Regions from separate parts of the Homo sapiens genome. Here region 2 is linked to region 1. The links come from fine-mapping of genetic effects on gene expression. A gene starts in region 1. The other region holds a variant in brackets. All regions are shown on one strand. Distances are from middle to middle. Region 1 holds the start of SAG (S-antigen visual arrestin). Region 2 overlaps SAG (S-antigen visual arrestin).

What was found. PIP is the estimated chance that this variant, and not a neighbour inherited with it, causes the effect.
Region 2: its variant is the best candidate, but not a certain one, in a credible set for the expression of SAG in testis (GTEx, PIP 0.71).

The regions. Positions count from the first base shown.
Region 1 is chr2:233,305,595-233,309,981 of GRCh38, forward strand. SAG (S-antigen visual arrestin) reads left to right here and starts at 2,222. Exons shown (of 16, transcript NM_000541.5): 1 at 2,222-2,428; 2 at 3,568-3,670. The coding sequence starts at 3,596.
Region 2 is chr2:233,325,649-233,330,035 of GRCh38, forward strand. SAG (S-antigen visual arrestin) reads left to right here. Exons shown (of 16, transcript NM_000541.5): 7 at 1,473-1,549; 8 at 2,830-2,965; 9 at 3,845-3,929. Among named protein-coding and RNA genes, the nearest start is that of SAG, 20 kb to the left of the region's middle. RefSeq lists enhancers at 693-1,670, 2,968-3,799, 3,830-4,387. The variant T/C (reference allele first, on the strand shown) is at 2,419.

The DNA.
Region 1 (4,387 bases):
AAGAAAAGCAGGCCAGTGGTGGTGGCTCACGTCTGTAACCCCAACACTTTAGAAGGTTGAGGTGAGAGGATCAGTTGAGGTTGGGAGTTCGAGACCAGCCTGAGCAACATAGCAAGACCCCATCTCTACAAAAAGGTTAAAGAATTAGCTGGGTGTGGTGGCATGTGCCTGTAGTCCTAGCTACTCGGGAGGCTTAAGTGGGAGGAGCGCTTGAGCCCAGGAGTTCAAAGCTGCAGTGAGCTATGATTGCACCACTGCACTCCAGCCTGGGTGACAGAGCGAGACCCTGTCTCTAAAAGAAAAGAAAACAGGCTCAGTACTCTGGAGTGAAGTGGGCAAGGGAGAGGGTGGTGAGAAATAAAGTCAGAGGTAAAGGGGGGCCAGAGCATGCCGGACCTGGCAAGCATTGTCCAGACTTAAATGGGAAGCCATTGGAATGTTTGGGTGGATGCTGATACCCCAAACGTCAGAACAGGCTTTCTGCATATACTTGTTTCATTCCCAAGTCAGTCCCCCATGTAAGTGTGTTAGTGGTCGCAGAGTCCCCTCCATCCATTCCCTGAGTGTTCTTGGGAGCAGGCATTGTTCTGGGCACTGTGAAGACAAAAGTGAAGGAAACAAAATGGCCTAGGCCCTGCCCTCATGGAGCCTGGACTCCAGTGAGGGAAGAGAGACTGTAGAATAATTCCCAAGCAAGAGTGAAATGTGGCCAGGCACGGTAGCTCATGCCTATAATCCCAGCACTTCAGGAGGCCAGGAGTTTGACACCAACCTGGCCAACATGACGAAACCCCATCTCTATTAAAAATACAAAAATTAGCTGGGCATGCTGGTGCACAACTGTAATCCCAGCTACTCGGGAGGCTGAGACAGGAGAATCGCTTGCACCCAGGAGGTGGAGGCTGCAGTGAGCCGAGATCGCGCCACTGCACTCCAGCCCAGGCAACAGAGTGAGACTCTATCTCGAAAGCAAAAAAAAAAAAGAGTGAAATGCAAGCGTGCCTCCAATCTGGTCCTGGAGGTTGGGGATAGCTCCCCTGAGGAAGTGACTCCTGGTCAAAAATCTGAAAGGCCAAGAAGAGTCAACAAAGTGGAGAGAGGAGAGGCTTGTTCCAGGCAGAAATAATAGTGGGAAGGAGGAAGCGTGGCAGACGGCGTGGAAGGAAAGGCAGGCAGAGGTTCCAGAGGCTGCAAGCTTTTTGCCTGCATTCTAAGAGCAATGGGTGATTGTAAGCGAGGGATGACAGGGCTCAGAAGGTCTCTCTGCCTCTGTGTGGAAAAGGGCTTGGAGGGTAGAAATAAATGTGGTCGGCTGGGTGCGGTGACTCATTCCTGGAATCCCAGCACTTTGGGAGGCCGAGGCAGGTGGATCACCTGAGGTCAGGAGTTCGAGACCAGCCTGGCCAACATAGTAAAACCCTGTCTCTACTAAAAATACAAAATTAGCTCAGTGTGGTGGTAGGCGCCTGTAGTCCCAGCTACTCTGGAGGCTGAGGCAAGAGAATCACTTGAACCTGGGAGGCAGAAGTTTCAGCAAGCTGAGACTGCACCACTGCACTTCAGCCTGGGAGGCAGAAGTTTCAGCAAGCTGAGACTGCACCACTGCACTTCAGCCTGGGAGACAGAGCAAGACTCCATCTCAAAACAAAAAACAAAACAAAAAAAAGAAAAGAAATAGATGTAGTCAGACAGTGGGGAATCACTCCGGTCCTGAGAAGCAAAGGCGGTGCTGGGGATGGGAGGATGCAGACAGGTTCCAGAGACACTGAGGGGATCAACAGGACTCCTGAAGCCATCAATCAGTAGGACCGGGTGGAGGAGAGGGACAGATCCAGCTTGGCTTGCATAACACCAGGTTCATCTTGAGGTTGACATTTCTCCTTGACCTTTTTGTTTAGTCCCCACCCGCAAGGTCGCATTAGCTGCCTGCTGAGTTTAATCAAATCTCTTCCTGTCCTGGCAATGCCCGGGAATGAAGAGATAATCAGTCTATTTCCAGAATCCAAAGAGGTTTAGAAGAAAAAGTAGCTTTCATTTAGCTGTTGGCCCTCCCACCAACCTTCCCCAAGTCAGCTGGGTGACTCATACATCTGTGAGACCCTCCGTATGGAGACCGGGGCGGGGGGTGTTGCTTAATGCTTAGAACTGCTGAAACTACCAGTTCACTGTCTCAGCACTAATCCAACTCTGCTCCTTAAGTGGGATTTGGCTTTTAGACATTGAGACCTGGATGCTGGGCATCCTCGCTAGATCCCCTACAAATTCCCCACATACGTAGGCCAGGAGCCTCAGCGGTGCCCCTTCAGGCTCATCTGGCAAGACGGTACCAGCTTGCTCAGAACAGGGGCTGGCTATTCATCATCTCAGAGCATAGAGACCCTCTCCTTGCCACCCGGCCCTTCCCACCTGGTTGGTGACAAATCACAAGGTATGTGACCACCACAGGCCAAAACCTTATCAGAAACCTGGGGCAGGTGTGGGGAAGAGCAAGGATGGGCGTTTTCCTGCAGACAGTATGTCCCGCCTTCACCTTTTCTGTGTGGTTTCCATAAGACTTGGTTGCTATTTAAGGAGACTTGGAGTGAGCGGGTGCAATGGCTCATGCCTATAGTCCCAGTGACTCAGGAGGCTGAGGCTGGAGGATCACTTGAAGCCAGGAATTCGAGACCAACTTGAGCAATACAGTCAGACCCAGTCTCTACAAAAAAACAAAAATAAAAATAAATTAGCTAGGCATGGTGTCACACACCTGTAGTCCTGGCTACTCAGCTGGCTGAGGCAGGAGGATCACGAGCCCAGGAGTTCGAGGCTGCGGTGAGCTATGATTGTGGCACTGCCCTCCAGCCTGGGCAACAGAACGAGCTCCTATATCTTAAAAAAAAAAAAAACCTCAGAGTATGCTTAATTCTAGACCGCTAAGATGGCCTCTTAATTGTAAAACAGAGTGGCTATCTCTTAGTAGGAATTGCCAAATAGAACTTTTGGGATTTTAATATATTCTTTTTTTTTAAAAAAAGTGATAGGATCTTGCTATGTTGCCCAGGCCAGTCTCCAACTCCTGGTTTCAAATGATCCTCTCGCTTCAGCCTCCCAGAATGTTGAGATGACAGGTGTGAGCCACAGTGCCCGGCCATTAATATCTTCTTGAAAACAGTCTTTGCGAAGTGGTTATGTTGTGGTTTTCAGGAACTTTTCTGATTTATTCGCCATTAGACACAGTCACGATAGAACTTTAAATTCAACCTGGCTAAGTGTGATAACACCAAAGGTTAGTCAGAAAGTAAAACCTCATTGGAATCTAGCTAGACTCCCTGGCAAGGTGTACTGAGAAATGTTTGAAGCTTACCAAGAAAAATAAAATATTGAAAACACCCCAAAGCATGCTGCAGTAAAATACAAACTAAGCAAAGACTCACCGATGAAACTCGGATGTTGAAGCCGGTACAAGGGCATGGTGAGGACGCACAGGATCTCGTGAGTAGGTTTCATAACTAGGATGTTCTTGACTTGATATTTAGGATTGTCTTACCTTTCTCCAACCCTCTAACACCTGACCAACACCCCAAGGTGGTAGAAGTTGCCAGGGACAGATAACATGGCAGCCAGCGGGAAGACCAGCAAGTCCGAACCGAACCATGTTATCTTCAAGAAGATCTCCCGGGACAAATCGGTGAGTGGTGCACAAGTGAGTGATTTGATAGAAATTATTGTTTAAAAAAAATGGAGCTTTTTCAAGTACAGTGTAGTCATGATCAACATCAAAACTCTTTGAGGGCCAGGGCGCGGTGGCTCATGCCTGTAATCCCAGCACTTTGGGAGGCGGAGGCGGGATAACTTGAGGCCAGGAGTTCGAGACCAGCCTGGCCAACATGGCAAAACCCATCTCTACTAAAAATACAAAAATTAGCTGGGTATGGTGGCAGGCACCTGTAATCCCAGACTTGGGAGGCTGAGGCACAAGAATCACTTGAACCCAGGAGGTACAGGTTGCAGTGAGCCCAGATGGTGCCACTGCACTCTAGCCTGGGTAGCAGAGGGAGACTCTGTCTCAAATAAAAAACAAACAAACACTGTGAGGGCCAGGGAAGCTTTGTGTCTATTTTTGTCTCTGTCTAAGATGGATGATCACTGAGCTATAAATGAGTGAATGAACTGCAGAAATAGAGCTTCTCTTCAGTCTCATCAAGACTTTAGTCCTGTGTCCCTCAGTTTTCTCCGAATCCCTCAATCCCCACACTGTCACCCCCACCTCTGCATCTTTTCCTAGCCAGCCTTGAACCCTTGACTTACTATTTAAACACAGTTTTGTCAGTACCTGTGATGCCCTTGGCCTTTTGTCTATCTATTGTGTCACCTGCCTGGGTAAAACCCAGACAGTGATCAATGT
Region 2 (4,387 bases), 20 kb after region 1:
GACCCCAAATTCAGATTTTTAGGTGACCTTTCTTGATTTTTACAACACTGTATAGGCCCAACAAAGCACCACCTATTTTCTGTTCTAGGAGAGGAGCAGGTCTTAGCACAGCTGCAGGGCTTCAGGAAAGTGGGTGCGCCCTGAGCCCAGGGAGCTTGAGAGAAGTGCCTGAATGCCTGGGGGCCTGGGGGCTTGACAGCTGAGAAGCCCAGGTGGGCGAGCAGAACAGGCGTTGGTGTGGCTCAACAACGGCCGGCTGATGGCAGGGAAGGATGCATATTTATTTTCCACTTAGAGTTTAGGACTGCTATGATTCCCTGGTTGCAGAACCAATAAATCCGTGCCTCATATGTCACCATGGACAGAGCTGGCTTCCTGTAATTTTTGCCAGCTCTACTTTCCCCTCCAGGCAGTGGTGGAGGGCAGGCCGGTGCCCTCCTCTGGCTCCCCAACGCATGTGAACGTGCAGAGATGAGGGAGGTTACAAAGGGCTTGCACTGGGGGCCAGGGGCTTCACACACTGGGAATCGGGGGAAGGTCACTGGCAGATCCGTTCATTCAGCCCACACAATGCTTAAAAGTCTTTTTATTTAATTTAAAAACTAGGAGATTTCACTCCAAATTCCACGTGAAGTTTCTTTTTTAAAAATCAAGCTGGCTGGGCGCGATGGCTCACACCTATAATCCCAGCACTTTGGGAGGCCAAGGCAGGCGGATCATGAGGTCAAGAGTTTAAGACCAGCCTGGCCAACCTAGTGAAACCCCAACTCTACTAAAAATACAAAAATCAGCCGGGCATGGTGGTGCACACCTGTAATCCCAGCTACTCAGGAGGCTGAGGCAAGAGAATTGCTTGAACTCGGGAGGCGGAGGTTGTGGTGAGCCGAGATCATGCCACTTGCACTCCAGCCTGGGCAACAGAGCAAGACTCCATCTCCAAAAAAAAAAAAAAAAAATCGTGCTGCCCGCACTGGGTGCCTTGCTGCCTGGCCACATGAGGCTGCCGCTGAACAGCAGGTGACCATGGGGGTCAGGGTTTCCATACCCTATCAGGGCATTCCTGGACCCCAGCGCTGGCCCTGTGAGTGCCTGTACCTCTGGCCCCTGCTGTAGGCAGTGGAAGTCAGTAAGATGCATGGGATCACAGTTGGGGACACCTAAGTGTGCAAGGTGGCAGGAGGCAAGGATAGCCAGGATGTGAATGACTCTCCACGGCAGCAGGAGGGCTCATGGGGCAGGTGGATCCCCTCCCTCTGGGGGCTTTGGGCCCATGGCACACTCCTTGCGCTACTGTAATTGTTTCACTGTCAGTATGCTTCCAAATCCCTAAATGGTGCAACCCCGAATAGGACATGGCCAAGACAAAAAGAGATAGTGCCACATCATGTGCCCTGTGTGAGGTGTGGCCCTCTGGCCCGGCACCCAGGGAGGGAGTCGCTGATCGCTGCCTGTCTGCTCTCTCTCCCCAACAGTCCTGTGGGGTTGACTTTGAGGTCAAAGCATTCGCCACAGACAGCACCGATGCCGAAGAGGACAAAATCCCCAAGAAGTAAGAGTATGGTTGCGGAATAGGTGAGGGGTCTGCGGTGGGGGTGGAGAGAAGAGACGACCTCCACCTTGTCTCTGTGGGACAGACCTCTTCCCATAGGGCTGGCACGGCTGGGGTACCATCTGCATGTGGGATGGAGGTCAAAGGTTGATCATTTTTGGGGAAAAAAAAGAAAACAAGAAAATGACAGGGAAGTTAGCAACCTCCAGGGCTCACGTAAGCCCCGAAAAGCTCCCGGGTTTCCCCTTTGTTGAAGTTTTGTTGTTGTTGTTTGTTTGTTTGTTTGTTTGTTTTTTGTGGTAAAATGTACACAACATGAAGTTTGCCATTTTAACCACTTTTTTTTCTTTTTTTCTTTTATTTTTTGAAATGGAGCCTCGCTCTGTCCCCCAGGCTGGAGTGCAATGTGACCTCGGCTCACTGCAACCTCCGCCTCCCAGGTTCAAGCGATTCTCCTGCCTCAATCTCCCGAGTAGCTGGGATTACAGGCGTGCGCCACCACGCCTGGCTAATTTTTTTTTTTTTGTATTTTTAGTAGAGATGGGTTTCACCATGTTGGCCAGGCTGGTCTTGAACTCCTGACCTCAAGTGATCCGCCCGCCTTGGCCTCCCAAAGTGCTGGGATTACAGGCGTGAGCCACTGTGCCCGGCCCATTTTAACCACTTTTAAATGTACCATTCAGTGGCTTAAGTACATTCCGAATGTTGTGTAGCCTTCACCGCTGTCTATACCCAAAACTTTCCCATTGCCTGAGCAGGAACTCTACAACCATTGAGCCTACCGCTCCATCCTTCCCATTCTCCCACCCCCTGTGCTGTTTTTTTTTTACCTAAACAAGATTTCCGCCTGGCCCTTCGCACTGTCTCCT[T/C]GTGCCCCATGTACACATCTCTGGAGGCGCAGGATAGTGAGCTGCAGTAATGGAGCTCGCATGTATATGGCAGCTATTCCATGAGGCCCTTGACGCCCTCACACCTTAGCCTTGCTGACAGGAGGCAGAGCTGGGAATCCACGGAGCCTAAGGGGCTAAGCTTGGCCCTCGGGATGTTGCCTGGCCCCACAGCTTCCCCCACAGGGAAGGGACCAGGACCCAGACCCCCAGGCTCTTCCACCGTCAGGGCTGCCTCAGGCTCTGACCAGTGTCGTTGCCCTCTTCCCGTCCACCCTGTCTCCATGGGGAGCATTCCTGGAGAATCTCCATGTGACAGTGGGGAGAGAACAGAAGCCTCCCTAAAGCGGCCTGGGTGCCAATCCCTGGCTTGTCTGTGGCTGTTTCCCACAGGAGCTCCGTGCGATTACTGATCCGCAAAGTACAGCATGCCCCACTTGAGATGGGTCCCCAGCCCCGAGCTGAGGCGGCCTGGCAGTTCTTCATGTCTGACAAGCCCCTGCACCTTGCGGTCTCTCTCAACAAAGAGGTAACCACCTACCATCGCTACTACCCGCAGGGCAGCAGGCCTAGGGGCAGGCCCCACACCCCTCTCTTCACCAGCCCCAGCCCTTAACTACATGGGTGCCTTGCAAGGAAGCTTGTTTCTAGGATAAAGCACCAACATGCGTAAGTGACTGGCCTGTTTTCACAGCCTGGAGCTGGTCAGCATGGTCCTTAGAGGAGGACGGAACTGGCTTGCGTTCCACCCACTGGCTGTCCCGAGGGACTGGGGAAGGAAGGGGCGCTGCTTTTCACATACCTGCCCCCCAGCTGTCCTTGTCCTGTCCACCTCCATGGGCCTTGTTCACTCATGGAGCATCAATAGCTGTGGTATCCCAAATTCTTCACTTCCTGGGAAATTTAAGTTTTGCAGAAACCATGTGGGATGGCAGTGTCACCTGTGATGTCATCTCTTAGGGGTGTCATGGTGGGAAAAGGTGAGAGCTGCTGGCCAAGGCTGGCTCTGGTTCCTCTGGTCAGCAGTCAGCCATTTGTGCACTGTGTGTATACACGTGTGTGGGTGTGCCAGGGGCTGTGTTACACGGGCTCTGCTGGGTGGGATGCCAGCACTTGGCTTTCCCAGTGGTTTCCTTTCACTTCACTCATCCTGCCCCCATAACCTCCTGACCCCTGGCCTCCTCCGATGTGATGATCGGAACTCTGTTCCCCTCCCCAGCTTCCCACAGATGGGTGGAATGTGTTTCAGGCCCTTCCTTAGAAGAAATGTATTGCTATCACTTCATCTTCCTTAAATTCTGCCGCTTTTATTCCAGTGAAAGGGATTGAGATGAATCTAGAAAGCAGTAAGATTAAAGACACCGCCACATCTGTTCTCTTCTTCTGACCTATCTGCTGACTTTTCTAGATCTATTTCCATGGGGAGCCCATCCCTGTGACCGTGACTGTCACCAATAACACAGAGAAGACCGTGAAGAAGATTAAAGCATTCGGTAGGACCTTCTTCTCAGAAGTAGAGGGCATAGTCTTCTAGAATTTCTGATCCTGTTTCCTGAGAGGTCACTTCTCTGGTCTGATAAGGCCCTTCTGGGTCCTTGGAACTGGCTACTTGTCTCTGCTGTCATAGGCAGCAGGACTGCGGAGGGAGAAAGGCCTTACAAGTTATCTCATTCAACTTCCTGCCCACTTACGGCTGGTTTTTGTCTTGGAACAAAATTCCTGGCAAGTGATCTCTTTCCATGGTTATGCCTTCCTGGAGGGCCCCACAGTGCTCATTGTGGTTGACAGATGCAGCACATTGTTGTGGGTGAGGCCTAATTTGTGGACTCATGCTGTGGGCTCTGTGATCCCAGCTGGCATCCACAGCAGGGGCTCCTTGTCTACCTTCCCAGGCTTTGTGTGGCTTGAAGGAGGTCCCACATGGAAGCGCTTTGTAAATGGTGAAGTGTGA